2 separate regions of the Homo sapiens genome follow, and region 2 is linked to region 1. The links come from fine-mapping of genetic effects on gene expression. A gene starts in region 1. The other region holds a variant in brackets. All regions are shown on one strand. Distances are between the middles of the regions. Region 1 holds the start of PLOD1 (procollagen-lysine,2-oxoglutarate 5-dioxygenase 1). Region 2 overlaps MFN2 (mitofusin 2).

Evidence for each region. PIP is the estimated chance that this variant, and not a neighbour inherited with it, causes the effect. A credible set is the group of variants that fine-mapping cannot tell apart.
Region 2: its variant is the best candidate, but not a certain one, in a credible set for the expression of PLOD1 in neutrophils (CEDAR, PIP 0.53).

Annotation. Positions count from the first base shown.
Region 1 is chr1:11,933,440-11,936,348 of GRCh38, reverse strand. It overlaps PLOD1 (procollagen-lysine,2-oxoglutarate 5-dioxygenase 1), which reads right to left and starts at 1,632. Exons shown (of 19, transcript NM_000302.4): 1 at 1,494-1,632. The coding sequence starts at 1,569. RefSeq lists a silencer at 1,354-1,823 and enhancers at 1,000-1,923, 2,044-2,093, 1,924-2,849.
Region 2 is chr1:11,991,900-11,994,808 of GRCh38, reverse strand. MFN2 (mitofusin 2) reads right to left here. Exons shown (of 19, transcript NM_014874.4): 4 at 2,119-2,254. Among named protein-coding and RNA genes, the nearest start is that of MFN2, 13 kb to the right of the region's middle. The variant TG/G (reference allele first, on the strand shown) is at 1,075.

The sequences.
Region 1 (2,909 bases):
CAGCCCTGGAGATGGCCCATGCCAGGGAGGGCTGGGGAGGAGGGAAGCACCCACTCAGGACAGTGGGGCACACACTGCAATCCAATCTGCCTTGAGGAAGTAGAAAGAGCGCTAGACTGGAGCCCAGCTGACCTCGGACCAACCACCTCTGTCTGGACCACCCTGGACAGTCACTTCACCTGTCTGGGCCTCAGTTTCCTCAAGTATAAACTGCAGAGAGGGCCAGGTGTGGTGGCTCACGCCTGTAATCCCAACACTTTGGGAGACCAAGGTGGGCTGATCACCTGAGGTCAAGAGTTCAAGACCAGCCTGGCCAACATGGTGAAACCCCATCTCCACCAAAAATACAAAAATTAGCTGGGCATGGTGGCACATGTCTGTGATCCCACCTACCTGGGAGGCTGAGGTACAGGAGTCGCTTGAACCGGCCGGGCGCGATGGCTCACGCCTGTAATCCAAACATTTTGGGAGGCTGAGGCCAGCGGATCAAGAGGTCAGAAGTTCAAGACCAGCCTGGCCAGCATGGTGAAACCCCATCTCAACTAAAAATACAAAAATTAGCTAGGCATGGTGGCACGTGCCTGTAATCCCAGCTACTTGGGAGGCCGAGGCAGGAGAAACACTTGAACCTGGGAGGTGGAGGTTGCAGTGAGCTGAGATTGTGCCACTGCATTCCAGCCTGGGCGACAGAGCGAGACTCCATCTCAAAAAAAAAAAAAAGAATTGCTTTTACCTGGGAGGCAGAGGTTGCAGTAAGCCGAGATCGCATACTGCGTTCCAGCCTGGGCGACAGAGCAAGACTCTGTCTCAAAAATAAATAAATAACTAAATAAATAATACATTAAGTAAAATAAAAAAAATAAACTGCAGAGAGGAAGACCACCCTGGCAGGGGCTAAGCAGACCACAGGGGACATGGATGAAAGCACAAACTTATCCACAAAGTGAGCCACACCTTCTACCCCCATTCCTCCCCTGTCCCCCTCAAGACCCCTCATTCCCATGGTCATGAGGCCTCCTGGCTCTGGAACCAGACACCTGGGTGGGTGGGGTAAATCCTGGTTCCAAGGCCCACAAGTTGTATGATCTTGGGCAAGTGAATGAACTCTGGAGCCTCAGTTTGCCCAGCTGGAAAACGGGGATAATAGAAGGAAACACTTACCAGGGTAGCAATCATGCCTAACTGATGCCTGGCCCATAGTGAGCACTGGGCAGAATAGCCATTGTCGGTTATTATTATGAAAACTATTATTATTTGAGCCTTTCTGTGCTGAATGGGACTCAGCTGTCACCCTTTCCTTCCCGAAGCAGGAACCGCAGCCCCAAGAGGGGAAGTGATTTGTTCAAGTCACCAGCGATTAAGTGGACAAGGAGCCGGAACCCAGACTCCCTCTCCAGCCCAGGCCTCCCATTCAGGTCGTTCCCAGGGAGGCAGCCCGACACCAGCCCTCCCGCCCGGATCCGCGCTCCCGCCCCCGGCCTTCGCTCCCTCACCCTCCGGCTTGGCGTCGCCCTTCGCTTCGGCCAGCAGCAGCCAGCCCAGCAGGGCCAGTAGCAGCAGGGGCCGCATGGCCGAGGTATGGGGGACGATCGGCCGACCCGGCGGCGCTCGCAGGGCTGGAAACTTCGCGACGGGGCCGCAGGTCCCGCTGCCACGCACTGGGCCCGCCCCGGGGGCGGCACCACCCCGCCCCTCCACGCCCTCCCCCGCGCCTGCCTAGTGGGGAAGGGTTTTTCTGCAGATATGCCCAAGTCCGGGCCTCTCCTTATTAGGGCAGCTCCCTCCGCCTCTCTGTGCAGCTCCCGGGGCTTCCGTCAGGCCCTGCCGTCTCCCTCCCTTCTCTGGGGGGTTCACTCCGACCAGAAAGAGGGCGGTGAGAGGAGAGAGAGGCCACGATTTCTAGACCCCAGGTTCTGGGCCAAGGCTCCATGGCATCGATAGCCACGAGCCCCTGTTTGCTCGCCTGAAAAGTGGGGCTTATGATAGCGTCTGTTCATTGGGTCTTGCACGGGTTAATGGCGTTACCTGTAGCGCACTTAGAGCAGCCCCAGGTCAAGCCCCAAGGAAGTCAGTTTTCATGATTTCATTAGTCCTTCCCAAAACCCAAGGGGTGAGGGTGGGCACGGATGCGTTCAGAGACACGGACACCCCTACGTGGCCCACCCAGGCACTGGAAATGCAGGAAGCCCGTCTCCACTCTCCCCAAAAGGCAATCACTTGATCTCCCTTTGTGTCCCTGGGAGGCAAACCTCTGAGCCAAGGAAAGTCTTGCTTCTGAGGTTTTTTTGTTTTTTGTTTTTTTTTTTTCATTTTTTTGAGACAAGGTTGCTTTCAGTTGCCCAGGCTGGAGTGCAGTGGCGTGATCACCGCTTGCTGCAGCCTCGACCTCCCGGGCTCAAGCGATCCTCCCATCTCAGCCTCCCAAGTAGGTGGGATCACAGGCCTGAGCCACCATCCCTGGCTAATTTTTCTACCTTTTTTTTGAGACAGAGTTTCACTCTTGTTGCCCAGGCTGGAGTGCAACGGCGAGATCTGGGGTCACGGCAACCTCCGCCTCCCGGGTTCAAGCAATTCTCCTGCCTCAGCCTCCCGAGTAGCTGGGATTACAGGCATGTGCCACCATGCCCAGCTAATTTTGTATTTTTAGTAGAGGTGGGGTTTCTCCATGTTGGTCAGGCTGGTCTTGAACTCCCACCCTCAGATGATCCACCCGCCTTGGCCTCCCAAAGTGCTGGGATTACAGGCTGAGCCACCACACCCTAGAGAGATTAATTGTTAAATGAGTAAACGAATCGATGAAAGTTTTTAGGGCCTCTTCACAGATACCCAAAGCCCAACAAACAACTCAACGGTCTCTAGAGTAAGGGCTCCTGGACCAGATGTCAGACAGGGGCAGCCACCTCTGAACA
Region 2 (2,909 bases), 58 kb before region 1:
AGTGAGACAGGAAGCCCACTAGCTCACCTAAGTAGGGGGTCATACCTCCCAGGTGAGGATGAAGAAATGATAGTTCAGAGGAGTAGAGGACCACACCTGAGGTTACAGTTCATCAGGGTCAAGACTCTAGGCACAGTGCCTATTCCCCAGGCTACCACTGTGTGCCTAGCATACAATCTGTCTAGATGCCTTTTTTCTTGTATTAGATTTTTTTTTTTTGAGACGGAGTCTCACTCCGTCACCTAGGCTGGAGTGCAGTGGCGCGATCTTGACTCACTGCAACCTCCACCTCCTGGGTTCATGCCATTCTCCTGCCTCAGCCTCCCAAGTAGCTGGGACTACAGGCGCCCGCCACCACACCCAGCTAATTTTTTTTGTATTTTTAGTAGAGATGGGGTTTCACCGTGTTAGCCAGGATGGTCTCAATCTCCTGACCTTGTGATCTGCCTGCCTTGGCCTCCCAAAGTGCTGGGATTACAGGCGTGAGCCACCGTGCCTGGTCATTATACAAGTTATAAATGTTTGGCCTAGTACTTTAGGTACATTGTGGCTTCACAAGGGCCAGTGTTAAAACTGCTTCCATGTCAAAGCAAAGAAAACTGCCTACATATTGGTTTGTCCTGGTGGGGAATAAAAAGGATCATTGGTTCCAGTCACAGGTATAGTAAATGTGGGTACTTTAAGGTTTGGAGCACTTACAAGGCTGTGGTAGAAACAGATACCCCATGGTTATCACATGTTAAACCATGTGTGTCTGTGGAATACTCAATCTCAATGTGCACACCTTTGACTACAGCTGTGGAAGTGTTCCTTTAAACAAAGTTGTGACCCATTTCAATCTGGATAAGGGCAGAAATGGTTCACACTCCATTATTTGTAAAGTTATCTGCTGTTAGCTTTCATTATTTTTGCTACACTCATTTTATTTGTATTTAAAATGTTTCAGGCAACCTAAGAACAAATGTAAAAGTAAAGATGCAGGAAAAATGAATACTTCATGTATATCAAGCTAGCAGTAAAACAAAACAAAAAAAACACGTATTTAACTTATTTTTAGATTTTTTTTTTTTTTTT[TG/G]AGATGGAGTCTCACTGTCGCCCAGGCTGGAGTGCAGTGGCCCGATCTCGGCTCACTGCAGGCTCCGCCCCCTGGGGTTCACACCATTCTCCTGCCCTAGCCTCCCAAGTAGCTGGGACTACAGGCGCCCGCCACCTCACCCGGCTAATTTTTTGTATTTTTAGTAGAGATGGGGTTTCACTGTGTTAGACAGGATGGTCTCGATCTCCTGACCTCGTGATCCACCTGCCTCGGCCTCCCAAAGTGCTGGGATTACAGGTGTGAGCCACCATGCCCGGCATATTTTTAGATTCTTTGCTTTTGTGATTTTTTTTTGATGCTTGCCTAACATGCATGCACTGTAAAAATAGTTAACAGGGAAATAACTTGAGATGATGGCTAGCTTTGTTTAATGTCTTACGAAATTTTCATGAACAATACAAGCACAATTGTTAAGAACACGTGTATTAAATTCATGTAAGTGGAATAAAAGTTTTATGAATGGAGAAAAAAAAACAAATACTGTATGATTCCACTTACGTGAGACATCTAGAATAGTCAAATTCATAGGGACAGAAAGTAGAATGGTGGTGGCCAGGGCAAGGGACATGTGGGACAGGGAGTTATTGTTTAATGGCTATAATACAAGCTTCAGTTCTGCAAGATGAAAAAGCTCTTGAGACTGGTTGCAAATATACCTACTAGTGAATTGTATGCTTAAAATGGTTAAGGTGGTAAATTTTATATTATATGCCTTTAACCTTAATTAGAAAATAAAAAAAAAAAAGTCAGGCTTGATGGCATGCACCTGCAGTCCCAGCTGCTCAGGAGGCTCAGGTGGGAGGATCACCTGAGCCCAGGGAGGTCGAGGCTGTAATGAGCTTCCAGCCTGGGTGACAGAGAACCCTGTCTCAAAAATCAAATAAATAAATAAAATATAAATTAAGAGGAAAGCAATGAATTCTGAAGCATGTCCCTGCCTGGAACGTTCTGTGACCTTGCACAAAGTGCCTCCCTCCCTCCTAGCCAGGAAGAAAGAAAGGGTGGGTGCCTCAAGGACTTACCGGCCAAAAAAAGCCACTTTCATGTGCCTCCGAGCCAGCACCTCACTGATGCCTCTCACTTTGGATAGGTAACCTTTGACGTCCAGAACCTGTTCTTCTGTGGTAACGGGGTCCAGTTCTGCATTCCTGTACGTGTCTGGAGGTGGGGATTGAAAATGGGTCACCACGTGGTCAGAGGAGTTCCACAGTCCCAAGTCTGGAAGGGCCAGAGCGCCGGCCCTGCTTACCCTAAACGAGTCCACCTCTGGCACCCTGCAGCCGACAGGCTGAGCTCCAGATCCTCTATGGTGGCCCCACGGTGTGGTGGTTAAGAAGATGGCTCAGGAGCAACACTGCCTGGTTCTGAAGCTGGTTCTTACCACTTTCTAGCTCTGTGGCCTCAAGCAAAAGAACCTTTCTGGGTCTTAGTTTCCTTAAGCACAAAACGGAGATAACTACATTATCTACTTCATGAGAACATCGTGAGGATCAAACGAATTGAAACACAAATGCTGTGAATGGCGGCTGGTAGAAGATGAATACTTAAATGTTAACTGCCTTCCTTGTTTATTTTTTCTTAACAAATATTTACGAAGTTCTTACCACATGCCAGGCACTGTTCCTTTCACTTTTCAAATTCATTCTCTCCTTTGGTCCTCTTTATTAACATGGCTCCGGAGTTAGTAAAAGGCAGAGCTATGATTTGAATTAGGCAGCCTGGCTCTGGAGTCCAGGCTCTTAACCACTCTATGTCACTTCTTTTTTTTTTTTTTTTTTTTTTTTTTTTTGAGACGGAGTCTCGCTCTGTCGCC